Linked DNA regions of Homo sapiens. The protein of the gene in region 3 purifies or fractionates together with the protein of the main gene of each other region. This does not show direct contact. Each region holds a gene or a part of one and is shown on either strand. Other genes may lie near its edges.

Region 1 (3,960 bases), on a different chromosome or scaffold from region 3:
CTAGGAGCCTGCACTGGGAAAGGGAGGAGTGATTGGTATGCTCTTCCCTCTGCTCGGCTCCTCTCTACCTAATCACTGCTGATTGCTCTGGGCCCAAGTGATGAGGAGAGGTAAACAGATAAATCATTTTGCCCTGACTGGGTATTTCTATGCACTGTGGGCCTGGAAGATATTTCCTCTCCCCTATTCTCACTCTCAAATGATAAACTGGCTTCCTGCTCCCCTGAAAAAAAATCAAAGCAATCAGAAATGAACTTCTGGGGCCCTATCAGGAACTCTGGAAGAGGGCTTTCATAATGGAGCAACCTCTTACCACTGCCATTTACCTCAAACAGGCCCTCCACATTACTCAGCAATCCTTACCCCACTGCATTCTGAGTTCTCTCTCATCTCAATAGCACTCGACAGCTAACAACCTGCCCATCCTCCCATAAAAAAAAAAAAAAAAAAAACACTGGCTGGGCACAGTGGCTCATGCCTGTAATCCCAGCACTTTGGGAGGCCGAGGCAGGCCGATCACTCGAGGTCAGGAGTTCGAGACCAGCCTGGCCAACATGGTGAAACCCCGTCACTACTAAAAATACAAAAATTAGCTGGGCGTGGTGGCATGTGCCTGTATTCCCAGCTACTCGGGAGTCTGAGGCAGGAGAAGTGCTTGAACCAGCAGGCAGAGGTTTCAGTGACCTGAGATCACGCCACCGCATTCCAGCCTGGGCCACAGAGCAAGACTCTGTCTTAAAAAAAAAAAAAAAAAAAAATTAACTCTCCTGGTTTTACTCCTACATCTCTGGGTGAACCTTCTCCTCTTCCATCACCTTCACTGCTTCATTTTCCTTTACCCATCCATGACATGCTCCTCAGTTCTATTCTGAGCCATTTTCTCTTCTCATTATCTTACCCTGAATATCTCATCTATTCTGACTTTAATTACCACCTCTAGGCTGCTGATTCCCAGACCCCCAGCACAGATTTCACGCATGTCCCACTTCCTAAAATCCAACACTTTGAATGGCATCACCAGCCTACCCACAGTTGAGCAACCTGGAACTTACTTCAGATTCCTCTCTTACCAACCTCAACATCCCACCAATTCTACCTAATGAAGTTCTCCTGTCTGCCTACTTCTTCCATCATGACTAGTCAACAGTGCCCTCATCTTGTGCCCTAGTACCTGGGTTTCTATAACACCCCTGTTCTCATCTATCCCACTCAACTGGACCCTGTCATTCCTTATCTCTCCCTAGGTGAATAAGTACACTGGCTATATCTCAAATGACAAGCTCCGGGAATACAAAGATAAACATGGCTTGAGAAAACAGCAGCCAAATGCACAAAGGAATCACAATGCAATATTTAGAAGCTGAAGTAGCACTCTTCACATAGTACTTTGAGAGTACAGATGAAGAACTGATTTTGCTTTGGGAGTAGAATAGGAAACAACTAGGCTGTTCGGAAAGATGAGCAAACTGCCAGTCCGATGAATATCCAGCAGAAAGAACAGTACGTGTAGAGGCACTGTGTAGTGCCTGCCTAATGATTCACAGCCCAGCCTCCAAACATGCCCTCTGGACTACAGCCTGTTTCAAAACCTCCATCCCCTTATTAGAGGCATCCAACTGGCTCAGGGCATAGAACCTATGATCTCCCAATGGGTACTGTCAGGTATTCCTGGAAACAAGTACAAGAGGCCATATCTTTATACCTGGGCACATGGCAGATACCTTTTGGGGGAGGCCTAGAATCTATCATTCAAACTCACCTTCCCTCAGCACCTTGCCTATAGCTTTCCCAGGACATGCTGATCTGAGTCCACTGCAAGGCAGAGATAGTGGACAGACTCTTCCGCCAATGAACAGCCCAATGCCCCCAAGCCCACATGGCATCAACAAGTTGTTTATGAACAGAGACCCAGCTCCCTCACTACCCCTCCAAGGACAGAAGCTCAGAATCTATTAAAAGTCATTAAATAGCCTATGAAGCAGGCCTGTTGAAAGGTCTAGCCTCTCCCAGAGGCTTCCTTAGTCAACAAATCCATTCTTTACCCCTCAGCCTCCAACCAGCCTAGGGAAGATCTTCAAAAAACAATAAGGCTTACAACACATAATAGTCATAGCTAGTTTACTGAGCACCTCCTATGTTCCCAGCCCTGGCTACAGATTTCTCCAGTTAACCCACACAACCACCCTGCAAGACAAAAATTCTACCATTTTCCAAATGAGGAATGTGATATACAGAGATTAAATGACTTTAAGTGCCTCTGGGTAGCAGGCCAAGAATTAAATCCAGGTCTACCTGATTCCAAAATCTGTGCTCTCAGCTATATACATCCCAAAGTCCCACAGGACAATAGGTGTTGGGAGTGGCTTGATGCTATATGGTTCCAAAAATGGAGATGAGGGGAGAGGGGAAAGATAAACCACTAGAAATGCTCGGTATGGGGACAACCAAACAGTCTCAAGTTGGTGGCTCAGACTGATGTCTTGAGCCAAGATGTTGGTGGACAACCAGTTGCCTCAGAGTCAAACAGCAACAGCTGCCTGTCTGCAACCTTGAAGGCCTGGGCAAACTGAAGCTGAAGGAGCAGAAGCTATGGGTGAGCAGAGGAAGCTGATCTGTAGACAGATCAGATGACAGCAGAGTGGAGATGGCAGGACAGGAAGGCCATGTGGCTTCTTAGTTGGAAAGAAGAGCAAAACCTAAAGATGCCTTGAATTCCAAACCATCTAGTTTTCATAACACCTGAAGTGTCATGAGACAGATATCCCCATGTTCTCACAATAAACTCTTTATTGTTTAGCTAGCCCCAGTGACTTTATGCATCTTATAACCAAGAAGCCTTCAGTAGAGCAAGTCTGAGCCAGAGGTTTTATCACACTTTGTCCTCAGGGTCCACCAGGAACCAGGTCTTGGCTCACAGCCAGGCTGGAAACAGTCTTCACAGTTCTGAGCCTGGAGTTTGAGATCTGCCTCCCCTTTCAAGGAAGATCCAGAGGTCACCTGCGCTTGTAGAGACATGGCTGAAGCTGCAGGCCTGAAAGCTGAGCCTTGGGCCCTACCAGAGGGGGCCCAGTCTTTTGGAAATCAAACAAGAAGAAATGGCTGTTGGTCAGGTCCTAGGGGCAGAAAAGACCCAGTGAGAACCAAATCCTCATCCCAACTCCTTAAAACACCTCCCTCTATGTACTGCCTCTGCTCACAAAGCTTCCCAGGGCTCCCACTTCCGTTGGGGAGCAAAATGTCTGTTCCTGTGCCTAAAGCCTCCTTCCTGAACACCAGTACCCTGAATAGGGCCACATGAGACAAAAACAGGTACAGATGTCTTGGGGCCCTCACCTTGGAGACAATCTTGAAGCCTAGCTTGGTCACAGCCCGCAGAAAGGTTCGAACATCCTCAAAGCGGCTGCTGACCTCAGCCACTTTCAGGAGACCCCTGAGAAAGACAGAAAGTTCTGTGTAAGTGCACAGACTCATGCATGCACACATACATACATGCATCTGTGTCCTGGGGGCTCTTACCCTGGCTTCAGTACTCTATTTGCCTCCTCTAGGAAGTCCCTGATGTTGGTTCCCATCAGTGAAAGGCAAAACACAGCCACATCCACAGACTCATCCTCCAGAGGAACCTGTGGAGAGTGAGAGTGTTGTATAAGGCACACAGTGCAGAAGAAGAAAGCCAGCACTGAGATACCAGGATGGGAAAGGGGAAGGAAGGGTTAGAGATTAGCATACGGAGGTTGGCCCTAGAGCACAAGCCAGATAACATAGGGGTTTACCTGGGCCATGTCACACACAGTGACCCTAGGGTCCAGAGAAGCCAAGTCAAAGCAATGCACAGGGTTCCGGATACTTGAAGCCAAGCGGCAATCCCCACAGCCGAAGTCAGCCACCACTAGGGATGCAGGCCTGAGAGTGGAAGGCAAGGGTCACATATTGGTCTGATCTGAGCCTATGACTGACCCA
Region 2 (3,804 bases), on a different chromosome or scaffold from region 3:
AGGTTTGCATCCAGCCCTGAGACATGTAGGAAACACCTTTCAGACCCAGGCTCTGAAGATTCCCAGAAGCCACAAGGATTGAAGGGAAAAGGTGATCCTGGTAACTGTTCCAGGATTGCTCCAGGTTTGAGATGGTATTGCTAAATTTAAAATTAAACAAGAAACCCAACAACAGCTTTTAAAGTGTCTTCTATCTCATTGTATTTTTTTTAACTTGCCCCAATGATAGAAAAGTCTTTTGCTGAAATGATTTTGATGATTTTTGTTTATCGTTTATAAAAAGGAAAAGAAATATACAAACTTTGACTTTTGTGACTTTGTGAAGGTTTCTTTAAGATGTGCATTCCTTTCTGCTTGCTCTCTAGTAAATGTTTTACTACCGGGACCTGTGGATCGTTTGTCATTTCTGTCTATGAATTGGTACATATTAAGAATAGTGCCGCACACAGTGTAGGGACAGATAGGGAAGTGCTTATTAAAACTGTCAGAAAAGACAACTCTTCCATTATCCTGGTTTTATTCAGGAATAGGATGGGGGTGGGGAGGGCTTAAGTGGCCCACACGTCCAGGTGTAGACTGACTACATTGAGTATCGCTCCAACACCGAACTTCCCTTTAACGGTTTAAAAAAAGGGTCATGAGTGTCAACACAGTTCAGCAGTGTTTTCATGGGAGACCTTCAGGCAGGCAGGAGGACATCCTCCTCTCTGCTCAGGACCACCACGGGAGTTCTAGGCACTCCACCTCACTGTTCTTCAGACAGCTGTGATGTGAGCAGGGGCTAGGCCGGTAATCAAGGGGGCCAGACTGAGCCATGCCACACCCTTCCTCCTAGTCCCCATGCTCTCCTGGGAGCCTGGCAGCTCTGCTTACTTCCGTTTGTGTTTTTTCTTTTGTTCCTTACGTTGCTGTGCTCTTTGGTCCTTCTTCATCCTTGAGTCCACCACCTTGAAATGACCTCTGACTCCAGCTGGCCGGCGCACTTTGCGGCCCACACCTTTTTTGGCTACAACGTAGGTGACATGGCGTTTCTCCTTGCCAAGCCCAGCCTTCTTGTAGAGACTACAGGGGGGAAGAGAAGAGGTTAGAGGCTTGCTTTCTGCTGCACTTTTAGCCCTGTGTACCTTTGTGGTGTCCTCCCATTACCTTCGCAGCTGTGCCACTTTCTCTCGTTCTGAGATGTCCACTGTGTTCACCACGGCTTCTGCCTTCTTCCTGGTCTGCTCCAGCCTCTTCAGCATCTGCAAAGGAACCTGTCAGGTGACCTCTTCCCCATCCCCCCACCCCCACCCCACCCAATCTCTGGAGGCCCCATCACTTACCCTCCTTTTCTTTCTAGCCTTAGCCTCAGCCACCTTCTTGATGGGACGTGCATTGATTTCCCGCCAGCGTTTCCGGTAATGCTCCACCTCCTTCTTACCAACAGGCAACTGTCGTATCCGGTGCTGCTTTTCCTCTTGCACAAACCACTCCGGAAGCTCCCCCTCATCCTCATTAAATGTGTACCTGAGTGGAAAGGACATCTGTCTAATATCCAACATTCCAGGCTTTCTAAAGAAATTACCAGACTGGGCACGGTGGCTCACGCCTGTAATCCCTGCACTTTGGGAGGCTGAGGTGGGCAGATCACCTGAGGTCAGGAGTTTGACCAGCCTGGCCAACATGGTGAAACCCCATCTCTACTAAAAATACAAAAATTAGCTGGGCGTGGTGGTTGGCACCTGTAATCCCAGCTACTCAGAAGGCTGACTCAAGCGATTCAAGGAGAATCAGGCTGCAGTGAGCCAAGATCGTGCCATTGCACTCCAGCCTGGGCAACAGAGCGAGACTCCATCTCAAAAACAAAAAATTACCCATTTACCCACCAGACCCTGGGTCACTCTTGATGAGTTTATGGCCCCTTTACCGGTTGAAGGAGTTATCTATGAGGTCTCTCTTGGCCTTTTTGGAAGAGGCAATAACAGCACCTAGAGCAAGGCCTTCGGGGTCCAGTATCCGATGTTTCGCTAGAGAGGGAAGGAGAAAGGTCAAAGCTCAATTCCCAATACTGAGACTTCCAGTGGTCTTTTCTCATTCCACTGCATACAGAGCTCTCACCTGGGTCCTCAATAGGCACTATCTCAAACCCGTCATCATCTGACTTAGGCCCACGGCTTCGCTTCTTACCACGGAGGGGTTCCCAGCTGTGAAGAGGGGAGGACTCTGAGTGATTCCACCACTCTGTACTACTCAGACCGCACTCCCACGGAATTTGCAAAAATCCTGCCATGCAGGCTGTACCCCAGACCAGTTAAATCAGGATCGTCAGTACAGTATTTTTAACCCTCCCCATGTGCAGCCAAGATTAAGAACCCCCAATTTAGAGAAATGGTTCAAGCCACCGCTTCCTTTCCATCCCTTCTCTCAGCTGCAACTACTCACCTCTCTTCTTCCTCACTGCTAGTACTGCTATCACTGTCTGAGATGCCATCCTTTTCTTCCCCTTCAAGGCCAGTGGCAGCTTCTGTCCCCGAAGAAGCCTCTGTTCCCTTAGGGGCTTCATCTTGGTACAGGGGAGACATTATCTCAGTCTTCAAACAGGAAGGGGGTGTCTGTGGCAGCTGCTGCTTCTGCTGCTGCTGCCGTCCCTTCCGCCGGTTCTCAAATAACAGCTGGGCCTGACTGATCTCCAGGGCCTCATCGGCATCGTCCTCGATCCCAGCAAAGCTGCCCTGTGATAGGAGAACATCAGCTGCCCTTCTCCCAAGGAAGACTCATCTCCCCGCAGTCTTGCCCCCGGCCTCTCCTTACCTTTGAGAACCACAGGTTGGCTTGTTCTTCCTGCAGTACTGCCTTTTCCTCCAGTGGTACCAGCAGTGGATTCTCCTCCTCCTCCTCCTCTTTATCATCTTGCACTTCAGTAAGTCGCATACTGTAGACCCAAAGGAAAGTAGGGGGCTCAGAGACCCAGATTGCCTGGAGCCCTTGCTGCCCTACTCAGGCTCTGGTAGTACCCACCCTAACACTTCCTCAGAGTGGCAGCATTCCCTTTGGTGCACACGTGCCCCTTACCGCTTTTGGTCCCTTAGACCCTGATGTCCCCTGACTCCTGCCAGCTCCTCTGGATCCAGGTCACTATCCAGAGATGTGTCATCACCGTCGTCCTCAACATCTGACACATAGATATCATCCCTTGGCAGATCGGACAGAAATGTGTCTGCTGCACTCATATCCCCTTGTGTTACTTCCTCTAATAACTGAAGTGTAACAGAAACAAAGGTAAACTATTTAAAAGGAAATATACTGTTTTTTTTTCTGTGTCCCTCACCTCAGTCTATGCTCAGCAACACTAGAAAGAACACTGGCAAATCCATTATCCTTTCACAGATGGGAAAGCTCAGATCCAGGGTAGTGAATGGCCTGTTTACAACATCCCGTTCTAGGCTGGGTTACTGATCTATCCCACTCAGCTGTCTTGTCTCAGTGGTATCACAAATAGGTCTTAAGGAAGGTACCTACAGCCCACATAGCACCAAATCTTAACATATTCTACAACACTGGTTTTCCTTTAAAAATTATTCTCAGACAGCATCTCAATCATCTCCTGAGAATACCGTCTACACAGTTTGTTTCCACTGAATAAAAGGGGCCCAGCCAACATACATCCAACAAAACTGTTCCACTTAAACCAATTGTCAGAACCTTTTATTTTCCTCATGGTAAAGATACTAGGCTGGGTATGGTGGCTCACACCTGTAATCTCAGCATTTTGGGAGGCTGAGGCAGGAGGATTGCTTGATGCCAGGAGTTTGAGGCTGCAGTGAG
Region 3 (4,438 bases):
TATCAAGCAAATCAATGTGCTTTTTCCTTTACCCCAGTGACGCCTGAAGCTAGCTTTTGGTTAGGAAACAAATTTATTTAAAATGTATTCCTGGCCAGAAGCGGTGGCTCACGCCTGTAATCCCAGCACTTTGGGAGGCCAAGGCGGACAGATCACCTGAGGTCAGGAGTTCAAGACCAGTCTGGCTGACATGGCAAAACCCCATCTCTAATACAATATTAGAGGGGCATGGTGGTACACGCATTTAACCCCTGCTACTTGGGAGGCTGAGGCAGAACAACTTGAACCTGGGAGGTGGAGGTCGCAGTGAGCTGAGATCGTGCCACTACATTCCAGCCTGGGCAAGAGTAAGGCTCTGTCTCAAAAAAAAAAAAAAAAGTAATCCTGTTTCATGTACAGCTTTGTAGTATTTTTAAATCTATCCAGGATCTTTTACTGCCCCAAATTACCTGTATCTTGTGGTAGAGAGAAACAGAAGTCCAACCTACTATACACAGGATAAGTATCTCTTATCTGAAACACTTAGGACGAGATGTGTTCTGATGTTGGAGTTAAGTGCATATACATGACACTTTGGGGATGGGACCTAGGTCTATACAGGAAATTCATTTATGCTTCATATACATGTACCCTGAAGGTTAACTATTTCTTCCTCAGGGACACTGAATAGTGCTGTGTACCTGTATTTTGACCATAACCCACCATGCGGGTAGGCTAGGGATTTTTAAATTGTAGTGTCATAGCTCAGTTTCAGAGGTTAGAGCTTTTTGGATTAGAAATATGCTCAACCTGCAATTTTTATACTTGCCCTATTTTCCTAGTTTACTTTTTATAAGAAAATTTGCAGGCCGGGCACAGTGGCTCACACCTGTAATTCCAGCACTTTGGGAGGCCAAGGCGGGTGTATCACCTGAGGTCAGGAGCTCGAGACCAGCATGGCCAACATGGTGAAACCCCATCTCCACTAAAAATACAAAAACTAGCCAGACGTGGTGGCACACACCTATAGTCCCAACTACTCAGAAGGCTGAGCAGGAGAACCGCTTGAGCCCAGGAGGCAGAGGTTGCGCTGAGCCAAGATCGTGCCACTGCACTCCAGCCTGGGTGATAAGATCAAGACTCTGTCTCAAAAAAACAAAAAAAGGCCAAGTGCAGTGGCCCATGCCTATAATCCCCCGCTCTGGGAGGCCGAGACAGGCGGATCACGAGGTCAGGAGTTCAAAACCAGCCTGGCCAACATAGTGAAACCCAGTCTCTACAAAAAAAATTAGCTGGGCATGGTGGTGGGCGCCTGTAGTCCCAGCTACCTGGGAAGCCAAGGCAGGAGAATCACTTGAACCCGGAAGGTGGAGGGAGCTGAGATCGCACCACTGCACTCCAGCCTGGGCAACACAGCAAGACTCTGTCTCCAAAAAAAAAAAATAAATAAATAAAATAAATCTGCTAGACTCTTGAGCATCAAGAGGCTGTCACTTTACCTATTTATGGCAAACATATTTGTACAAGGAAAAAAGATGTTCTGAAGCCAAGGTGACCATAAGAAAAAAATGTCACTTGTGTCACTTGGTGTTCTAAGTTATCATGATTTCTCATGACATGATCAATTATGACTGCAATGATTTTGCACTACCTATCCAAGTATGGGCAGAGAGTGAGATTAAAGAACTGATTATTTAGGCCAGGCGCGGCGGCTCATGCCTGCAATCCTAGCACTTTGGGAGGCCGAGGCGGGCGGATCACGAGGTCAGGAGAGCGAGACCATCCTGGCTAACACGGTGAAACCCCGTCTCTACTAAAAATACAAAAAATTAGCCAGGCGCGGTGGCGGGCACCTGTAGTCCCAGCTGCTCAGGAGGCTGAGGCAGGAGAATGGCATGAACCCGGGAGGTGGAACTTACAGTGAGCCGAGATAGCGCCACTGCAGTCCGGCCTGAGCAACAGAACGAGACTCCATCTCAAAAAAAAAAAAAAAAAAAAAGGAACTGATTATTTAATGTTTATTATAATCCTACTATCAATCTGCCTCCTAACTCCAGCCTCAACAGGCTTTAAATCCAAAGGCTTAAATACATTTGTCAACAGGTCAAAAAGAACCTTTATTACTTTTTATGATTGCCACTTATGCTTTCTTGCCAGATGCCTTTGGAGCAGGTGCTTTCTGGGCTGGAGCTTTTTGACCCTTCTGAGCTTTTGGAGCAGGCGCTGCTTTCTGGCCTGTGGCTTTCTGGGCAGGAACCTTCTGGGCTGGAGCCTTTTTACTCGCGGCGGTGATCTTTTTTGCTGGAACTTTAGCAGCAGCAGCAGCAGCAGCAGCAGCAGCAGTACCCTTAGTACCAGGTGCTTTTTTGGGAGAAGCTTTCAGGAGAGCTGCCTTTTGAAGCTTCTTAACTTCATTCTTGATTATTCTGTTCCTCTGAAAATTATCAATGTAAGAAAGCACTTATTGTGTATACATACAATAAAATCCAATTTATGCTGGTTTTAGAAAGGGCATTAAGTAGTCTGTTTCCCTACAACTACATCTGAAGAAAGGTAACAATTCCATAGGGACATCATGAAATACAAATGAAGATAAATTCTCCTTTTTTACAGAAAGCTTCCAAGAAGCTGGCAGCCTGAAATGGGATTTGGCTACTGCTCCCTTATTATTTAAAGCTAAGTTACACAAAAATACAGATCTTAAATCTTACCATTTTCTTTGCCTTCATAACTTTAAAACGATCAAAATCTGTCATCTTGGCTTTCTGTTAAAAAAAAAACAACAAATAAAAATTATCCCTCTCACACTATCTTGAACCCTCCAAAAAAAGAAAGGACCAGAATTCAAATGACCCTAAGTTATTACCCTTTCTCTGGCTTCAATCTTCTTGGCCCATCGTGTGGCTGCCCATTTTGTATTGATGTCTGCCTTCTGCCAGGCTTGTCGGACATACTTCTGGTGGGCACTAGAACGAGCCAAGACCACAGATTAAGAAATCAGCTTTGAAGTCACTCATTATCAAAGACACTTTCTTTGTTCCTTGAAAAGCACTCTTCCTGTTACACAACACCTGGTACACTATGTATTTTACTTATTTTTGTGTTCAGTAAGCCAGAATAGGTTATTAACTTCAAGCATATTTTAATCAAAACTGTAATCCAGTCCCTTTTTTTTTTTGAGAGAGGATCTTGCTTGCCACCCAGGCTGGAATGCAATAGTATGATCATGGCTCACTGTAGCCTCAACCTTCTAGGCTCAAGCCATCCTCCTGCCTCAGCCTCCCAAGTAGCTGGGACTACAGGTGCATACCAGCACACCCAGCTAATTTTTATATTTTTTGTAGAGACAGGGTCTTGCTACGTTGCCCAGGCTGGTCTCCAACTCCTGGGCTCAAGCAACCCTCCACCTTGGCCTCCTGAAGTGCTGGGATTACAGGTATGAGCCACTGCACCCAGCCCAGCCCATTTTATGAATTTAAAAACTACCTCTTGACCAGGCGCAGTGGCTCACACCTGTAATCCCAGCACTTTGGGAGGTCAAGATGGGTGGATCACCTGAGGTCAGGAGTTCAAGACCAGGTTGGCCAACATAGTGAAACCCCATCTCTACTAAAAACACAAAAATTAGCTGGGCGTGGTTGCAGGTGCCTATAATCCCAGCTACTTGGGAGCCTGAGGTTGCAGTGAGTCAAGATTGCGTCACTGCACTCTAGCCTGGGTGACAAAGTGAGACTCCGTGTCAAAAGAAAAAAAAAACCCTCAAAAAAAACACAAAAAACCCACCTCTGACTATATATAATTCCACTCGGGCAGTGGACGTGTTGAAAACCATTCTTTTTTTTTTTCTTTTTTTGAGACAGGGTCTTGCTCTGTAACCCAGGATGGAGAATGCACTGGCGCAACGTTGGCTCACTGTGACCTCTGCTTCCTAGGTTCTAGCAATTCTTCTGTTCCATCCACCCAAATAGCTGGGGCTACAGGAGTACACTACCACACTGGGCTAATTTTTGGACTTTTAGTGGAGACGGGGTTGGCTAGGCTGGTCTCAAATTCCTGACCTCAAGTTATCTACCTGCCTTGGCCTCCCAGAGTGCTGAGATTACAGGTATGAGCCACTGCACACATCCGAGCCATTCATTCTCGTAACAAACAAGGTAATTAATATTAACTGTTAGGCTTTTTTTTAAAAAAAAATTTACAGTAACAATTTGTGGCCAAACATCCTAAAAATAAAATCCAGGGTGTCCAGGGATCCAAGGCAGAATTACAAGAGTACCTAGTGAAAAATCTAAGTTACCAAGTATTTTCTACTGCTTTGAACTTTGACAAGTATCCTCAAGCTTCACCCCTAATTGGTATGTCACAGTAGTAGCAGCATGGCTATGTTCACTCGAGGTTGTTCAAGTGGCATGTTTTCAACTACCAGTACTTCAAAATCCATTATGTGTTAATACACGTC
Region 4 (5,102 bases), on a different chromosome or scaffold from region 3:
ACCTTCTGCTGGGCCAGGAGGAAGAGCTCTAGCTGTTCAGGGGAGCTGAGTATTATATTCAAGTCGGCTTTGAGGACCTCCGGCAGGATCTCCTGCAATGTGGCCTTCGAGACCTAAGGATGGAGGGAGAAGAAATCGTGACTTCCTCTGCGGGGTGAGCCTGGTGGATCCTGTTCTACCTGCTCCTGACACGGGGCCACCTGGTGAGGTATCAGAGTCATCAGAGGCCAGTTGCTAACAAAACTCAAATTCCCAGGCAGCGGGGTTTTTGACAAGCATCCCACTGACGCTAACTGGCCCCTGGAGGTACCTGCCCCCCACCCCTTATTTTTTTTTTTTAAGACAGAGTCTCACTTTGCCACCCAGGCTGAGTATAGTGGTGTGATCTTGGCTCACTGCAACCTCCGCCTCCCAGGTTGAAGCAATTCTCCTGCCTCAGGTGGGATTAAAGGTGTGCGCCATCACACCCAGCTAATTTTTGTATTTTTAGTAGAGATGGGGTTTCACCATGTTGGCCAGGCTGGTCTTGAACTCCTGACCTCAAGTGATCTGCCCACCTCGGCCTCCCAAAGTTCTGGGATTACAGGCGTGAGCCACCATGCCCGGTCAAAGCTACCCTTTTAATTATTCCTTTTTTTGGTATTTCAGAGTACTAGCTCATTTCATACACGAGGAGCCCTAGGTGGAGAGCTGGGATTCGAATTCAGGTCCTTCTGGCTCTGAGGTCAAGACTGCACAGTAAGCCCTGGCCTGGAGACCTGCTACCCCTGCCTTTCTCTTCGGTGACAAAAGGGCCTAGGGTGCTACCTTCCCAAGTAGGGCAGTGGAGGCCCACAAGGGGCCAGCCTTGACCAGGATAACAATGGCAAACGTTTTATATACTTGCCACGTGCCAGGCACAGTTCCAGAGCTGCACTGCCCAATACGGTAGCCACAGCCACACAGGGCTGCTGAGCGCCTGAAAGGTGGCTAATCTGAACAGGGGTGTGCCTAAGTGTAACATACACACTGGATTTTGGAGACACCTGACAAAAAGAGTGTAAGATATCTCAACACTTTTTTATACCAATGCACACTGAAATAATATTTTAGATATACCAGATAAAGTCAAATGTCACTAAATGTTACTAAATGACACCTGTTTCTTTTTACCTTTTCAACAAAGTCACTGAAACGCTTCAAATTATACATCTTTGTATTTCTATGGAACAGTGCTGTTCCAGATTCTCATCCGAGCCCCCTTGATGTCTCTGTAACAAAGTGTTGCCTGGGCCCGCACAGCTGGGGAGCTCATACCTCGGAGAGGATGTCCACCAGGGCCTTCCGGGGCTGCTCCTGCAAGTGGTTTTGGTACTGGGCCAGGGCCTGCAGCAGCTTCACCGACTTCATCAGTGCCTCCTGGTCCTGGTCCCCACAGAGGGACAGAGGGTATGAGCAGGGCACACGACTGTCCCCCACCCATCCCAAGCCAGCCTACATTCCCCCAGTCCCTCCAAAGCTCTTACCTTCACCAGCCGACCTGACTGAAAGAGGGCGAGCACTCCAAACAGGTTTGCAAAGAGAGCAGGTCTCAGCATTGCCTAGAAAAGGATTCCAGGCACAGGCATGAGGGGCCCTGGAACTCCCCATTCCCCAAGCCTCCCACCCCTGGGGCTGCTGACCTCCCTGGCCCCACTCTCACCTTCTTCACCTGATGCAGGTCATATTTTTCTTGTATCTGCTGCAGGATGCTGCACAAGGGGAGGTCTTCAAAAGACTGTAACAGCTGCCAGGAGTTGTGTGGCAGGAGGAAGAGGGTTCAGGAGAGTGGCCCAACTACGTCTTCACAAACCTTAACCTCCCTTCCCCCTTCAACTTCTCCCAAGAAGCCTCAGGTCCCTAGTCCCACCTTCTATGTACCTTCTATGGCCCCTAGATTACTAGTCTGAAATGCTCAGCCACTGGGTCTTCTCTCCGCACGTGGTCTGAGCTCCCCTCAGGCTGATCCTGCAGGCCTGGGTCTTTATTGCTCTGCCCCTTGTCAAGGCGCCTCAGAGAGTGGTCTACTCCAATCAGCTGAATGCCTCTGCAGGCCTAAGGGAGCCCACCCAGCGCTCACTGCTCCCAGAAAGTGTACCTAAGAGGCCGGGCAACCCAAGCACCAAATAGAAAACCTGGCCAGGCCTTGCTCACACCTTCTCCACTTTCATGAAGAGGCCTCCCTCAGGTTGGCCTCCAGTCTGCTCTGCCACTCCCGACCTCTCTCTCGGGCTGCCCCTCCGCCACAGCTGAGACACCACACCCGCCCTCCTCATACCCCACCATTTTGACCTGGATGGCTGGGACCCTGCCAGGAGCACCACCTCACCTGTGCCAGGGCCAAACTGTAGCAGGGCCGGGCTGTTTCTCGCCCGACCCCGAGTCCCGTGATTAGACGCTTCAGGGCATATTTCATCTCGGACCCCTGCGGAACCAAGCACACCCTCGTGTTCAATGGTGACAACAAGGTGCACGCCCCCGCGCACCCTGGCATCCAGGTTCGCGACCACGTGCCCCCAGTCTCAACTCCCTGGGCCCGCCGCCGCTTCCTTGCCGGGATATGCGCAGCCTCTGCCCCAGACCCCGCCACTCCACCTTCGGCCTGCCACGCAGATACTCCAGCAGCTTCTCCGTGGCCGCAAGTCGCGTCTCCTGCTCAGGCTTCGCAATGTCCCAGAAGAAGTCCAAGAACTCGCGACTGTGCTTCAATAGGCCATAGCGGTCGGCAGGCCGGGCGCCACTCTGCGTCGCTTCTCCAGGCGACATCGGCTGGGCGGGATCCCGGCTCTCCATCTCCGCCACACTCACCGAAACACGAAACACGTGTGCTCCGGCCCCAGCCGCTTCCAGGTCAGGGCACGGCGCATGCGCACCGGTTTGTGTCGGCTCGGAGGCGGAAGAACCCGGAGGGGCGGGGGAACCAAGAGAGACCGGCCCAGAGTTAAAAGAGCGGCATTTCCGCCGTAGCTCTGAGCGGAAGTCCCTCGCCTAGCGGCGTCCCATCTTTCCCAGCCTTCTGCTCACACCCGCTCCGCCCTGGCGGCTGTGGCATCTGCCCCTTTGGAGCCCCAGGGGGGCATTTCTAAGGGCCCATCTCGGAAACAAACCTAGGTGTAGCACTTCGATCCGACTCGTCCCAGAGCGGCCCCTGCGCTCCGAACATTGAGCCATTCAACAATTACTGGGCTCCTGCTGGCGTGCCGTGCTAGGCGGTTGGAACAAAGCCTCTGCTCTCGTGGAGGAACACGGAGCCAAATGCATTTAAAAAGATCATAATTATGAAGAGAATTAGGAATGCAAGGGTCAGGAGGAGGCTTTTAAGTGCTGGAACGTGAATACATCACCCGTTAAAAACACGGCTAATTACTATTCAATAGGGTCTCCAATAATGATTTGAGGGGTTGGTCAGGGAAGGCCTCTGTGAGGAAGTGGCATTTGGGATGAGAGCTGAGTGACAAGAAGGGCCCCCCTCCCCCGTACTCCTGCAAGGATCTAAGGGGACGAAATCCCAAGCCTTGCAACTACAGAGACCCAGGGCTGGAGGGGCTGAGGCTGGCGAGAAGCAAGGCTGCATGGGGCCCCGGGCTGGGATTTCATTCTGAGGGTGATGGGAAGTCACTGGTGAGTTTAATGCAGGGGCAAGCCTGGATCCGATTTACATTTTAACAAGATGATGCTGGCTGCTGTGTGGGGGATGGACTGTAGGTCTGCGCAGGTGGAAGCACGGGAAGACCATTTAGAGATAGTGGTGGACTGGACCCAGGGAAAATGAGAACAGGTCAGATTTGGGCTGATGTGGAGCAGGTGGGGTGGGTGATGGAGTTAGATGTCGGGGGAGAGGAAATGAGGGGGATGCCAGGTTTGAGACTGAAATAACTGGGTACATTGTGGTGCCATTACGGAGAAGAATTTTCTTGGGAGTGGGAGGTAAAGGTGGTGGGATCAAACGGTCTATTAAATCAGAGAAGCCTTTTACAATGGCAGGGGAGGGGAACTGCTACTGGTCACCCTCGCTTCTTGGTTTGAGAAGCTGTTTATAGAGGGCTGTGGTCCAGAGAGGACCTAACCCTTGGGGGAGGTCAGGGCTAACCTTCGCCTTGAATTTCCACACGCTCAACTCCAACCCCTTTGTACCCAAGCCCCTGGGGCGCCTTCTCACCCTCTCAGCCGCTTCCCTGCTTTGCTGTCTGTTCTAGAAAGTGAAATGAAAACATTCACCTTGCACATCTGGTGCCCCAGGAGGCAGGAGGTGAGCGGAGCAGGGGGAAGCTGAAAGATACCAACCCAGGCTCTCCCCTCTCTGGTTGTTGGTCACCTGTGCTGCCCATCAGGGAAGCCCTGACTCCAGTTGCTTCAAAAGCTGTTGGAAAATTAACCAAGAAGCAGGAATGGTGCTTGGTTTCCGGGAGACTTGATCTTTATTTTGTACCCAGTCTGGTTGAGGCAGATAGGTAAGGGGTGTCCTGAAGGGAAGGACAGAGATGCCAACAGTACCCTGGGCTCTGCCTGTCCTGCTTCGTGGGGCCCAGGGCCTAGGCAGAGGCTCTGCACTCTTTCCACTGTCCTCCTGAAAGCTGGATCTGAACTCAGTGCTAGCCCCAGGCCCTACTGCTTTTTCGTTATTACCCTGATTTTCTTAGCTGATAAAATAGCTAGAGATTCCATCCGGTGTGGGTGATCTGAAGAATGATTGTTAGCTCTGGATGCCAGAACTCAAGTCTAGGTAACTTAAAAGGCCAGAGGTTGGGGCCTGAGCCAGCAGTGAGCACATAATAAATCCTTTTTTTTTTTTTTTTTTTTAGACAGGGTTTCCCTCTTGTTGCCCAGGTGGGGTTGCAATGGTGCGATCTTGGTTCACTGCAACCTCCACCTCTCGGGTTCAAGTGATTCTCCTGCCTCAGCCTCCCAAGTAGCTGGGATTACAGGTGCCCGCCACCATGCCCAGCTAATTTTTTGTATTTTTAGTAGAGACGGGGTTTCGCCATGTTGCCCAAGCTGGTCTCGAACTCCTAGCCTCAGGTGATCCACCTGCCTTGGCCTCCCAAAGTGCTGGGATTACAGGCATGAGCCACCGCACCCAGCTA
Region 5 (4,438 bases), about 160 Mb from region 3:
CAAATGGAAACTTACTGACGAGTTCTCTTTGCTACTACATCGTCTAGCAGTTGTTCTGTATTCAACTGGGCCTGCACCTGAAGGGAAAAAAAAAGCAGTAGGTACCACAGAAAGCAGAGGATTTGAATCCAAAGAGCGATCCTGCTCTGGAACTTCCTAACCCAGTGGTGCGTGTACATGAGTGCAGCGGAGGTGCCTGCGCTATTCTACAACTTCCTAACCCAGTGGGGCGTGTGCGTGAGTGCAGCGGAGGGGCCCGCGCTATTCTAGAAATTCCTAACCCAGTGGGGCGTGTGCGTGAGTGCTGCGGAGGGGCCCGCGCTATTCTAGAACTTCCTAACCCAGTGGGGCGTGTGCGTGAGTGCAGCGGAGGGGCCCGTGCTATTCTAGAACTTCCTAACCCAGTGGGGTGTGTGCGTGAGTGCAGCAGAGGGGCCCACGCTATTCTGGCAACAGTTCCCTGTTGGAATTCCTACATGAGAACGAGTGGCAAATACAGGTTTATTCCCAAATAACGAGTTAAATTCTTATAAGACATTGCTATTGAGGGTAAGAAAAGATGGGAAATAAAAAACATACAACAGGAAGAACTAATCTACTACCACGTGCCTCACATCCTGAACCCAATGCTGCCTATGACTGAGGCTTACTAAAGGTGGCTGCTCAGGATCCTCTTTGGGAAAAAACAAACAAACAAACAAAAACACTGCCAAAGTTTTTAAATACCTTCAGGCCTCTTCTGAAAAGAAAAGTTGCCTGACGAGTATCTTTCTGATGATTTAATTTATTTCCACTCCTGGTAAAATTAGCTGGAATGTTATTTCTGCAACAAAAACACATAGGCCATGCTAAGCCATTTAACTACTTTCAAACATCTTGAGGAAAAATAAGCAAAAATAGTTAAATTCATAGGCTGCAAACATGAGGTGCAAGAAACAAACAACTCTGAATTATTTGCTTATTAACATGAAGCTACTGAGATTTGATTAACAAATACCTCCCTCCGAAGCATAGCACATAACCACGTGTTAATTTCAAACCACTTTATCTTCCAAATATTCAATCCTCTAATATCCCATATATCTTCTGAAGACATTAATAATCACATTTTTAGTGCTATTTCCTATATTTGGTGAAAACATAACTTTACAATTTATAGGATTAGTACAAAGAAAAACCACACATAGGCCAAACTGAAGACGTAAAATAAACTGAAGACCAAAAATAAAGAGAAAGGTTTGAAAAATAACATCTCCTCCTCCAGCTTTCTCTTCCTTCCTCACTCAGAAACCATTATGTATTAACATAAACCATAGAGGCCAGGCATTATGGCTCACACCTGTAATCCCAGCACTTTGGGAGGTTGAGGTGAGTGGATCACTTGAGGTCAGGAGTTTGAGACCAGCCTGGGTAACATGGTAAAACCCCGTCTCTACTAAAAACACAAAAATTAGCCAGCCTTGGTGGCACACGCCTGTAGTCCCAGCTACTCAGGAGGCTGAAGCATGAGAATTGCTTCAATCAGGGAAGCAGAGGTTGCTGTGGGCCGAGATCACGCCACTGCACTCCAGCCCAGCGACACAGACTTCATCTCAAAAAATATACAAACCACAGAAAAACTTATACTCTTCTATTTCTTGTTCTTTCATGCACAGAACAATGCTCTTAATTATGACTGTCACCAATTCTTTTTTTTAATTTTAAGTTCTGAGACACGTGCTGAACGTGCAAGTTTCTTATGTAGCTATACATGTGCCATGGTGGTTTGCGGCACCTAATTTCTTTTGTTTTCTATAGGAAGTTAGTGAAGTACGAAAAATTAAAATTTCATATTTATCTATGAAATATTCAATCCTCTAACATTCCATGTCTTCAACTGATGTATTGATAAATATGAAACACTATATAAACGAGTGTTTAACAGATTCCCTAGTCTTACCTCCAATCTTTCAGAGATTCAAGTTCAAAACTGCCCTAGCTAACCCAATTAACATGTAAGTCTCACGTAAATGATGGGTTCTTATTTGAGAAGGTCCCCTTTCACAAAAGGTACTATCAAGTGATTCCCAAAAGATGATGGTTAAAACTGCAATTCCAGCCATTCCATTTTTTGTTTTTTTATTTTTATTTTTTTGAGACAGAGTCTCACTGTCACCCAGGCTGGAGTGCAGTGGCACCATCTTGACTCACTGCAACTTCCGCCCCCCAGGTTTAAGCGATTCTCCTGCCTCAGCCTCCCAAATAGCTGGAACTACAGGCATGAACCACCACGTCCAGCTAATTTTTGTATTTTTAGTAGAGATGGGGTTTCACCATGTTGGCCAGGCTGGTCTCGAACTCCTGGCCTCAGGTGATCCACACGCAGCGGCCTCCCAAAGTGCTGGGATTGCTGGCATGCACCGGTCACCACATCGGGCTAATTTTTGCATTTTTTTTTTTTTTTTTTTTTGAGACGGAGTCTCGCTCTGTCGCCCAGGCTGGAGTGCAGTGGCGGGATCTCGGCTCACTGCAAGCTCCGCCTCCCGGGTTCACGCCATTCTCCTGCCTCAGCCTCCCAAGTAGCTGGGACTACAGGCGCCCGCCACCACGCCCGGCTAATTTTTTGTATTTTTAGTAGAGACGGGGTTTCACCGTTTTTAGCCGGGATGGTCTCGATCTCCTGACCTCGTGATCCGCCCGCCTCGGCCTCCCAAAGTGCTGGGATTACAGGCGTGAGCCACCGCACCCGGCCTAATTTTTGCATTTTCAGTAGAGATGGGGTTTTGCCACATAACTCCTGACCTCAGGTGATCTGCCTGCTTTAGCCCCCCAAAGTGCTGGGAATACAGGCATGAGCCACTGTGCCCAGCCACTGCATTTTTTAAAAACCTCATTCCAGGTTTTTTTTGCTGACTTATCTTCCACGAAAGATAAATAAATAATACTTGAAACTGAATAAGGAAACTTCACACCTCATCAACTTCATCTACTTTGTCCTTACAGAGAACAGAATGCCATAACAACAGATCATAATTTTTCTTTTCTTTCTTTTTCAGAGATGGGGGTCTCACTATGTTGCCCAGCAGGTTAGCCCTGAATCCTGGGCTCATGTGATCCTCCTGCCTCAGCCTCGTAAGTAGCTGGGACCACAGGCACATGCCACTGCACCCAGCTCACAGGCCATAATTTTTGGTTTTTATTATTCAATTTAGTATAAAAATAATTTCAGTTTAACAAGTGTTCATGAAGAATTCTCCCTTTCTAGTTTGATTTTTCCACAAATAACATACATTGTGATTCAGTGTTCTAGTAAGAGCCATCCAGACTGAGTAACAAATTGAGATTTCAGAATTCTCAATTTTGAATAATTCCCACTAAGATGTTAAGAGTTCTACCAGGGCTGGGCACAGGGGCGCATGCCCGTAATCCCAGCACTTTAGGAGGCTGAGGTGGGAGGATCACTTGAGGCCAGGAATTGAGACCAGCCTGGACAACATGGTGAGACCCTGTCTCTATTAAAAAAAAAAAAAAATTAGCAGGGCATGGTGGCATGTATCTGCAGTCCCAGCTACTCAGGAGGCTGATGTGGGAGGATCGCTTGAGCCCAGGGCAGGCCAAGGCTCCAGGGAGCAGTGATGGCGCCACTGCACTCCAGCCTCAGCAACAGATCGAGAAGCCCTGTCTCAAAAAACAGGGAGAAAAAAAAGAGAGTTCTACTAAAGTGATCAGCTTTTGCAATTTTATTCCATATGTCAAAGAGGTAAAGAAGCAGAGTGATGCTTTTTAAAAAGCTTATATCGGTTAACTTCATCAGTAAGAATTCATCTAATAAACAAGCTATTACTGGATACATCCATGTGGATGTTCAGATAGACATCCCAAATATCTGTCTTGAAAATGACCAGATAACTAAAAAAATCACTGCAAATCCATTCTTCACACCACTTAATGCAGGAAGTGTTTTTAATGCAAAATAACACATTATTATTTTTGAGCACTTACTTTCTGCTTAGCTGGCTAGGTCTCTTGAGAACTGCTACTGGTTTCCTCTGCCCTTCATTTTGTCTCAGAAGGTTTGCCTTCCTTTTTAACACTGGAAAATATTGTTCTATATTCTATCAGAAGGCAAGAAATTATGTTAATCAAATTGCATTTTTCTATATACTCTACTACAATAAACATTTCAGATGCAGAATGAACAAGGATTGACAACTGCTTGAATGTGCAGATAAGGGAGACGGAGAAACAAACAACTTGAAACTGTACAGTCTACATGACTGAAAAGATGAAAACCCCACATTATATTTAAAATATGTGAGGTACTCGGGGGACCCACAGGTGATGGGGAATCGTGGCTCTGGAACTCAAGAGAATCAGAGAGCCAGAGATATTTAAAATATGTGAGGTGCTCAGGGGACCCACAGGTGATGGGGAATCGCGGCTCTGGAACTCAAGAGAA
Region 6 (4,438 bases), on a different chromosome or scaffold from region 3:
CTGTAATCCTATCACTTTGCGAGGCTAAGGCAGGCGGATTGCCTGAGCTCAGGAGTTCGAGACCAGCCTAGGCAACATGGCAAAACCCCATCTCTGCTAAAAATACAAAAAATTAGCCGGGCGTGGTGGTGCTCAATTGTAGTCTCAGCTACTCGGGAGGCTAAGGCAGGAGAATTGCTTGAACCCAGGAGGTGGAGGTTGCAGTGAGCCGAGATGATACCTCTGCATTCCAGCCTGGGCAACAGAGCAAGACTATCTCAACAAAAAAAAAAAAAAAAAAAAAAAAAAAAAAAGCAGAGGCAATCTAATGAAGGTTTAACCCTCAGCAATCATGTTCATTCAGGGGAAAAGACCCCAATGTATTTAAATAGATTTTCTTAGCCTTTATTGTCTGGGAGACATGACACAAAATTTCTATCATAATAAAATGGCCAGTTTTGCTTCCATTACTGTTATAAACCCACATAGTCATCACACTTCTTTCCCAAATTAGATTCCAGATTAAACAGATGCCAGATGGGTTACAGATTTGATATTCAGAAGACTAATTTTTAATCGAAAGCAAACACTTTCTCAAATAGATTTTTCCACTTTTGCTTCCAGTAAATATACTTTGAGGGAGTTCCCTGAGTCTACTTCTTTAACAAATAAACATATGTAATCCCAGAAAATATACAGCAATTAACAGCCTGCAGAAATTTTTCTCTACTTCCATTTATCTGGTGACATAAATCACTGTTACATCAACCTTATTCACCAGTATGGGAATGTAAACACTTAAAAAACAAATTAAGCTATTTGCAGTAATTCCCATTTTACCACTTTAAAAATATTACTTTTCTCTGCAGTAAGGTTTTCTAGTTCAGAGCATTAAGCTGTCAACAAGACAGATATCCAAGCCCATCCATCCCGTGGCATTTGATAAGATCAACACAGCTATATATTTATAATCCTATTATCTCCTTAGCAGGTGAGAACAATGGATTTGGCCAACATTATTCAAGCTTCATAATACTGTATGGTAAAATGTTCATGACAAAGAGCAGAAGGTATGCCGGGCACAGTGGCTCACGCCTGTAATCCCAGCACTTCGGGAGGCCGAGGTGGGCGGATCACAAGGTCAGGAGATCGAGACCATTCTAGCTAACACGGTGAAACCCCATCTCTACTAAAAACACAAAAAAATTAGCCAGGCATGGTGGCGGGCACCTGTAGTCCCAGCTACTCGAGAGGCTGAGGCAGGAGAATGGCATGAACCCAGGAGGTGGAGCTTGCAGTGAGCCGAGATCACACCACTGCACTCCAGCCTGGGTAACAGAGCCAGACTCCGTCTCAAAAAAAAAAAAAAAAATAGTAGACGGTGTTCAGCACCATGAAACAGGGAGGCAAAAATAGAAAGTAGATGGTATCTAAAGAGATGTACAATAAAACTTCATAAACTTTGTTATATGTTTGAAATTTTTCATAATAAAATGGTGGGGGTAAATAACCATAGCAACTAACATGTCCTCTCATAGTTCAACTGATAACTGGCAATTTATATTTTTTGGAACAGCACAAATGGTATACAGCCTTGACTCTGGTGAAGTTTTATTTAAAGAAAAGCTCATGTAGAAAATTACACGAGAAGCATTTCAACCACAAATGTCTCCATCACCAGAAGTCAATGTAAAATAACCTGTTATAGGTCTAGTGTGAAACAAATCTGTCATAAAATTCTCTAAACATTTTTGAAAGCTCTAAAATCCCATTCTGAGAGAAAAGCAACTCCAAAGCTCTTATTTGAGAGGGGAGGAATTTATATTTCCTCAAATTGAACAATTCTGTGTCACTGGGTATCACATCAAATAAGAAGATCCAATTTAGAGGCTCATGAAAACAAGGCCTCTGCCTATAATCCCAGCTACTAAGGAGGCTGAGGTGGGAAGATGACTTGAGCTCAGGAGTTCAAGACCAGCCTGGGCGACAAACTCTGGGATTGACTTGTGGAATCCCACAAAAAGATACCCTTTTCATGAAAGTTTCATCTTTATACTGAATTACACTCTTACTCAATCCAGTAAAAAGGCTCAAAGAAAGTTGCCCCACAAACTGAGACTACCTTGTGGTATTGGGGAGAGAGACTGGATGAAGCAGTATCCATTTTGATAACACCCAGAATGATATCAATGATCTGGACTTTAGAATGGGGATGGAGGAGAGTTCCATGAGTCATGGCCATTTCTAAACTTAAAATACAGTAAATCCTCTCTTAACATAAGGGGTAGGTTCTTGGAAACTGAGACTTCCGACTAACACACGCTTATTGATACAAACAAGAGTTAGGTTCTAGGGCATATTTCTCATCAGAAAAATATCACCAAACTTTTAAATAAAGACCAAACACTTCGAATATTAAACACTGAAATAAATGTGAAGTATACATGCCTTTTTTTTTTTTTTGAGAAGTACTTTTGCTCTTGTTGCCCCGGCTGGAGTGCAATGGCACGATAACCGCTCACTGCAACCTCTGCTTCCCAGGTTCAAGCAACTCTCCTGCCTCAGCCTCCTGAGTAGCTGGGATTACAGGTGCCCGCCACCCAGCCCGGCTAATTTTTTTTATTTTTAGTAGAGACAGGGTTTCGCCATGCTGGCCAGGCTGGTCTCCAACTCCTGACCTCAGGTGATCTGCCCACCTCAGCCTCCAAAAGTGCTGGGATTACAGGCATGGGGTTGCAGTAAGCCGAGACTGCACCATTGCACTGCAGCCTGGGTGACAAGAGCTAAACTCCATCTCAAAAAAAAAAATTTTTTTTTTTACCACTTATTCCAGTTCAGGGTTGGGGTGGCTGGAGCCTATCTCAGCAGCTTAGGGTGCAAGGCCGGAACCAGTCCTGGACAGGACATCCACTGCAGAAAGCACTCACACTTACACACACAGCTCCACACACCAGTGAACCTCACGTGCACAGCTTTGGGATGTGGGAGGAAATCAAGAGTACCCAGAGAAAACCCATGCAGGGATAGGGAGAACGTGTAAACTCCACAGACAGTTTTTTTTCTCAACATTATCTTGAAACAACATTATTCAAGGACCTGCTGTAATCTGTATATACATGGACTTTCTGGCTGAAACCTAAAAGAGAGCAACTTATTCTCAAGAAACTATATTTATGGTAACAATTCTCAATGCTTAAAAGTTTTACGTTAAGCTTAATGGGAAGCACTACACATTTTTAAAAATGTGTTGTGTCCTTTCCCAGATACTAAATTGGCGTTTCTTTCCTAAATCAATTTTAAGAGGTGTATCTTTCCCCATCTTCCAGGTAGTCATAACTAAAACATAACATGTAACATTTCCACTGTACCTGATCAAGCTCAAAGTACACCTACAAAACTCAAATAACAGACCTAAAAGCTGAAAACTATTCACGACCAGAAATTTGAAAGTTATGCAACAAAGACATTTATAATATTTATAATATTCCTGTCAACTTCCATTGTAAGAGAGATCCTTTAGACACAAGAAAGAAAAACGTGAACACTTATGCTGTGATTTCATACTATTCACAAAAATTAAGGTTTCATTCATATTTGCTAAATTTGTTATTTGGAAATAGGGCAGACGGGGGCACTTTGGAAAACAATTCTATGTTAGAAGATTATCTTTTGCTTAATTCTTAACCTAAGGTAACAGCAGTATCTTTACACAACTACTGTAAAGAAACATTTTAAGTTTTCATTATGAATTATTAACTGTAGTTTAACTTTGACACAAAGTTATCTCTATTAAAGTGGGTTAAAAGGCAGGTCTCTGCCAAAACAGGACTGGGGAAATCTGTATTTGTTCGCTTTTCAATTATAGTCATTAATAGCTCAAGAATTTTTGCTTTTGTACACAATAAAGCAGCAAGGTTGTATTTTGATTTTGAGGAGCTGAAGGCATTGGATCAAGAGTTAATTTTCTTCTTCTTTTCTGCTGTACAGAAATCATGTATAAACAGAGAAGGGAAGCCCAACAAACAAAAATGAGAACTATTATTCTACTAAAAGTAAATTTTGTGACCTTAATCTGGGGCAATCTGGTAAAAGTCAAAATCGCTAATGTTGTGACACAATGTTTAAGATTTGTTTCAAAATAATCTAGTTTGTGTGGGGGGATACAACATGAAACAAAACCGACCTTGGCTATGAGTTAATAATTGTCAAAGCTAAGTGAGTGACTAACACATGGGGTTCTCCATACTATTCGAGTTTCGCATGTTTTCCAGAATAAAAGGTTTTTAAAAAATGGTATTTAAAATACCATTTCCCTATTGAAATATGCCATTGTGATATGGCAGTATTAGACATGCTTTATACTGCTTGTATAGTTGTTTGCTTATGTGTTTTTTTTGTTTTGTTTTTTTGGAGAGAGTCTCTCTCTGTCGCCCAGGCAACCTCCACCTCCCGGGTTCAA
Region 7 (4,438 bases), on a different chromosome or scaffold from region 3:
ATCCCTTCACTCAAGGCCCATCCTCTTTTTTTTGAGACGGAGTCTCTTGCTCTGTCGCCCAGGTTGTAGTGCAGTAGCATGATTTTGGCTCACTGCAACCTCTACCTTCCAGGTTGAAGTAATTCTCTTGCCTCAGCCTCCTGAGTAGCTGGGACTACAGGTACATGCCACCACACCTGGCTAACATTTTTTTTTTCTATTTTCAGTAGAGACGGGGTTTCACCATGTTGGCCAGGATGGTCTCGATCTCCTGCCCTTGTGATCCGCCTGCTTCAGCCTCCCGAAGTGCTGGGATTACAGGCATGGGCCACCATGCCTGGCTTTTTCTTGAGACCGAGTTTTGCTCTTGTTGCCCAGGCTGGAGTGCAATGGCACGATCTCAGCTCACCGCAACCTCCGCCTCCTGGGTTTAAGTGATTCTCCTGCCTCAGCCTCCCGAGTAGTTGGGATTACAGGCATGTGCCACCACACCCGGCTAATTTTGTATTTTTAATAGAGACAGGATTTCCCCATGTTGGTCAGGCTAGTCTTGAACTCCTGACCTCAGGTGATCTGCCCGCGTCAGCCTCCCAAAGTGCCAAAGTGCTGGGATTACAGGCGTAAGCCACCACACCCGGCCACCTGGCTAATTTTTGTATTTTTAGTGGAGATGAGGTTTCATCATGTTGGCCAGACTGGTCTCAAACCCCTGACCTCAAGTGATCCACCCGCCTCAGCCTCCCTAGGTGCAGGGATTACAGGTGTGAGCCACCATGCCCAGCCATCAAGGCTCATCCTCACCAAGTTAGCTTTCAATTGCTACAACATCTTTTTTTTTTTTTTTTTTTTTTGAGATGGAGTCTCACTCTGTCGCCCAGGCTGGAGTGCAATGGTGCGATCTCCACTCACTGCAATTTCTGCTTCCTGGATTTAAGCAATTCTCCTGCCTCAGCCTTCCGAGTAGCTGGGACTACAGGCATGCGTCACCACGCCCGGCTAATTTTTATATTTTTAGTAGAGACGAGGTTTCGTCATGTTAGCCAGGCTGGTCTTGAACTCCTGACCTCAGGTGATCCACCCACCTCGGCCTCCCAAAGTGATGGGATTACAGGCGAGAGCTACGGCGCCCGGCTGCTACAGCATCGTAACAGAGGCAAAGGCGCCCCCTAGAATGCAATGCAACTGCATCTGGAACATGAAAAGGTATACTCCTCACCATAAACTGATACTCTTGGTGTATGCATCTGCTCTTATGGGTTTTGTTGGTATGAATCAGTCTTGCCAAATCTGCTGAGTAACCAGATAGACTGTACCTCTTACTTTCAAAGCTGAAGACCAGATAGAGAATGCCCACACCAAGGCACACCCATCTTGGGAAGTCCTGTTATGGGGCCATTTATTTATTTATTTATTTATTTTGGTGAGGCAGAGTCTTGCTCTGTCACTTAGGTTGGAGTACGGTGGCACAATCTTGGCTTACTGCAACCTCTGTCTCCCGCATTCAAGTGATTCTCCTGCCTCAGCCACCCAAGTAGCTGGGTTTACAGGCGTGTGCCACTACACCCAGCTGATTTTTTGTATTTTCAGTACAGAGGCGGTTTTGCCATGTTGGCCGGGCTGGTCTAGAACTCCTGGCCTCAGGTCATCTACCCCCCATTGGATTTCCAAAGTGCTGGGATTACCCAGTTACTTTTATTTAGTCATATGCCCCATCCTAGTGTCTTCAAAGTATCAAATAAAACATATTATCAAGTGTCTGAGTAGAAATTAGGGAGATGTTTAAAAGTAAGTCACATTAGTGAAGAATGTGCCCATGTGCAGCATACTGTTTATGATTAACACCCACTTGATCATGGTCATCTGACAACCAGCACAACAAATCTAAAACAAGGGTTGTCATTAGAAATTTTTAAAAACCTAAAAATCAAAAACAAGAGTTGTCATATGAAATGAAGTTATTCTGCATGAAAAACCATGTGAGAAGACTTGCAACCAACTTCCTACACTGGGATAACAAATAGCTCAGGAAAGCTTAAAGAGAGGTTTAGTGCACAGAGTCCCTCTACTTTAGAGACCTCAGGGAACCTGGCCACAGCCAACATGAAGCTAATATCAGAATATCTGAACACTAAAGTAAGTAGGATGCTCAAATAAATGTTTGAATTATCAGAATGGTGCCTTAGCTTTTCCATTCTGAAATTATGAATTATCTTCCTTGACGTGAAACAACCAGAAACAAAAAATGTTAAGGTTTGTTTTTGAGATGGAGTCTCACTCTGTCGCCCAGGCTGGAGTGCAGTAGCACTATCTCAGCTCATTGCAGTGTCTGCCTCCCAGGTTTCAAGCGATTCTCCTGCCTGAGCCTCCTGAGTAGCTGGGATTACAGGCACCCGCCACCACACCTGGCTAATTTATGTATTTCTAGTACAGATGGATGTGATTTTGTCACGTTGGCCAGGCTGGTCTCCAACTTCTAATCTCAAGTGATCTGCCCACCTCAGCCTCCCAGAGTGTTAGGATTACAGGCGTGAGCCACTGTACCCGGCCACTTTTTTTTTTTTAAATAAAGGTAGGATTTCACTTCTATTTCTTTTCTTTTCTTTTTTTTTAGACGGAGACTCGCACTGTCGCCCAGGCTGGAGTGCAGTGGTGGGATCTCGGCTAACTGCAAGCTCCACCTCCCGGGTTCACGCCATTCTCCTGCCTCAGCCTCCCGAGTAGCTGGGACTACAGGCGCCCACCACCACACCCAGCTAATTTTTTGTATTTTTAGTAGAGACAGGGTTTCACTGGGATTTCACTTCTATTTCTAACATTCTTCCTCATAGTACCAGGCATCTATTGCCTGAGACTTCTTTTTTTTAAGAGAGAGGGTGTTATTTTTCATTAAATTTTCTTTACATTTGTCTATAATAACTAAGTCCAAGTGCTTACAATAAAATCATGATTACAAAAAGGGCATCATAAGAAATAATAAAAACTTCCTTTAAATTCCCGCTGGAGTCAGCTTGAATGAATACTAAAAAGCGAAGTCTGAGCATTTGCTGTTGTAGCCCCCAACATTCTTATCCAGCACCTGTGTGTGTGTTAAGGTGATTCCTCAGGAGGGTGACTGTTCTGAATGCCCTGCCACAGAGATGGCACTTGTGTGGTCTCTCATCAGTGTGGCTTTTCATGTGACGATCCAAATTTGAACGCCGTGGACACGTGTAACTGCAAAGCTCACACTGGAATGTCTTCTTTACACCTATGTGCAAAATAAAACACTTACTTGCTGCAGAGTTTCAAAGTGTTAAGATTAATCCTAATCTTAAATTTCTACAAATATATTTGATTAGCTTTTAATAACAAAACCCAATATAAGTCATAATTATCTCATGTCACTAATACATTTCCTTCTTCTTTGGGATTAAAAAAAGAGCATTCAATCTGGAAAAAACTTATTTTAGACTGGTTTTAAAGAACGGTACCCACATAACGACCTTTTACAAATACGGTTAATATAAAACAACTTGCATATGCACTGTGTTGTATGCTTATCCCAAAATGGTTTTATGAAACCACTATGGATAAACTCGTTTTACCTTTCTTTTTAATTTTTGTTGGCTTTGGAGGCTTCATATTACCAACCACTTTCTCTGCATTAACCTCTGATAGCAGACCCTCCTGCTGTTCTTCCTCAAAATCGTAGACAGACACATCTACATCTTTGCCCTCCTCTGTATAACGCAGTTTGCTCTTTTTGGTTTTCTTTGTTTTTTTGGCTGGTGGCTGATAGTCTGGGTCTTTTTGCCAACTAGGATCTTCCTGGGGTGGAAGTTCCCCTTGTTCTAGTGTCTCCACCTCTCCATTGGCCCCCACTTTAACCACCTGAAACCCTTCAGGCAAAGGTAGGGTGTGGCATATCATGGGTTCACTTTCCGCAAGGCCCTCTTTAGACACTTCATTTTCATAAGCCCCCTGAAGTTCTTCTACTGAAGTGGTAGCAACAGGTACAGTCACAGGAACAGGTACTTGAACAAGCTGAAGTTCTCCTATGTTTATGGGCTGTTCCTCCATATTTACAACCTGTAAAGTTATAATCTGGGTATCGTCCACAGCAGCCTCTGCTTCTGGAGCCACTGTGCCCTCCATTACTTCAGTCTTCATCTGAAGAAGGGTGGGGTCCAGCTGTTCCATCATCACCATCTGTACACTGCTGTTGACATCCTGGACCACCTCACCCCCATCCGTCTGGTTCTGGGGTAAGTGGCAGGCATCTTCTTCCTGGCCCCCTTCCCGGCGTCTCTGGTAAGTCTTTCTCTCCTTTCCTTTAATAAAAGTTTCGGACTCCTCCACAATGGCTTCGACTGCATCACCTTCCATTTCCCCTGCCTTTATTAAGGGAGAACACAGATTGTTATTTAAAGCAAAGCATGTCTAAATAAAAATATACATTTTAAAACAAAAAGACCCTTTG

Evidence for each region.
Region 1: the proteins of RPL14 (region 3) and RRP8 purify together in Homo sapiens (affinity purification with mass spectrometry; 4 studies listed by BioGRID and IntAct, with this or other methods). This does not show direct contact.
Region 2: the proteins of RPL14 (region 3) and FTSJ3 purify together in Homo sapiens (affinity purification with mass spectrometry; 4 studies listed by BioGRID and IntAct, with this or other methods). This does not show direct contact.
Region 4: the proteins of RPL14 (region 3) and MYBBP1A purify together in Homo sapiens (affinity purification with mass spectrometry; 3 studies listed by BioGRID and IntAct, with this or other methods). This does not show direct contact.
Region 5: the proteins of RPL14 (region 3) and FYTTD1 purify together in Homo sapiens (affinity purification with mass spectrometry; 3 studies listed by BioGRID and IntAct, with this or other methods). This does not show direct contact.
Region 6: the proteins of RPL14 (region 3) and STAU1 purify together in Homo sapiens (affinity purification with mass spectrometry; 6 studies listed by BioGRID and IntAct, with this or other methods). This does not show direct contact.
Region 7: the proteins of RPL14 (region 3) and CTCF purify together in Homo sapiens (affinity purification with mass spectrometry; 5 studies listed by BioGRID and IntAct, with this or other methods). This does not show direct contact.

What each region holds. Positions count from the first base shown.
Region 1 is NC_000011.10:6,597,153-6,601,112, forward strand, and holds part of RRP8 (ribosomal RNA-processing protein 8), read right to left. Parts: intron 3,904-3,960; coding exon 3,774-3,903; intron 3,624-3,773; coding exon 3,517-3,623; intron 3,431-3,516; coding exon 3,334-3,430; intron 3,114-3,333; coding exon 2,994-3,113; 3' UTR 1-2,993.
Region 2 is NC_000017.11:63,818,933-63,822,736, forward strand, and holds the end of FTSJ3 (pre-rRNA 2'-O-ribose RNA methyltransferase FTSJ3), read right to left. Parts: coding exon of another isoform or gene 3,741-3,804; exon of another isoform or gene 3,657-3,740; intron 3,237-3,656; coding exon 3,052-3,236; intron 2,912-3,051; coding exon 2,791-2,911; intron 2,712-2,790; coding exon 2,422-2,711; intron 2,184-2,421; coding exon 2,098-2,183; intron 2,007-2,097; coding exon 1,907-2,006; intron 1,507-1,906; coding exon 1,323-1,506; intron 1,242-1,322; coding exon 1,147-1,241; intron 1,063-1,146; coding exon 870-1,062; 3' UTR 501-869; downstream 1-500.
Region 3 is NC_000003.12:40,459,914-40,464,351, reverse strand, and holds part of RPL14 (large ribosomal subunit protein eL14), read right to left. Parts: intron 2,946-4,438; coding exon 2,846-2,945; intron 2,745-2,845; coding exon 2,691-2,744; intron 2,414-2,690; coding exon 2,120-2,413; 3' UTR 1-2,119. UniProt on the Homo sapiens protein: Component of the large ribosomal subunit. The ribosome is a large ribonucleoprotein complex responsible for the synthesis of proteins in the cell.
Region 4 is NC_000017.11:4,552,514-4,557,615, forward strand, and holds the start of MYBBP1A (myb-binding protein 1A), read right to left. Parts: upstream 2,872-5,102; 5' UTR 2,812-2,871; coding exon 2,614-2,811; intron 2,444-2,613; coding exon 2,348-2,443; intron 1,766-2,347; coding exon 1,682-1,765; intron 1,581-1,681; coding exon 1,506-1,580; intron 1,405-1,505; coding exon 1,297-1,404; intron 114-1,296; coding exon 1-113. UniProt on the Homo sapiens protein: May activate or repress transcription via interactions with sequence specific DNA-binding proteins. Repression may be mediated at least in part by histone deacetylase activity (HDAC activity).
Region 5 is NC_000003.12:197,769,788-197,774,225, reverse strand, and holds part of FYTTD1 (UAP56-interacting factor), read right to left. Parts: intron 4,095-4,438; coding exon 3,982-4,094; intron 824-3,981; coding exon 727-823; intron 78-726; coding exon 16-77; intron 1-15. UniProt on the Homo sapiens protein: Required for mRNA export from the nucleus to the cytoplasm. Acts as an adapter that uses the DDX39B/UAP56-NFX1 pathway to ensure efficient mRNA export and delivering to the nuclear pore.
Region 6 is NC_000020.11:49,181,505-49,185,942, forward strand, and holds part of STAU1 (double-stranded RNA-binding protein Staufen homolog 1), read right to left. Parts: intron 1-4,438. UniProt on the Homo sapiens protein: Binds double-stranded RNA (regardless of the sequence) and tubulin.
Region 7 is NC_000016.10:67,610,739-67,615,176, reverse strand, and holds part of CTCF (transcriptional repressor CTCF), read right to left. Parts: intron 4,354-4,438; 5' UTR 4,345-4,353; coding exon 3,564-4,344; intron 3,227-3,563; coding exon 3,056-3,226; intron 1-3,055.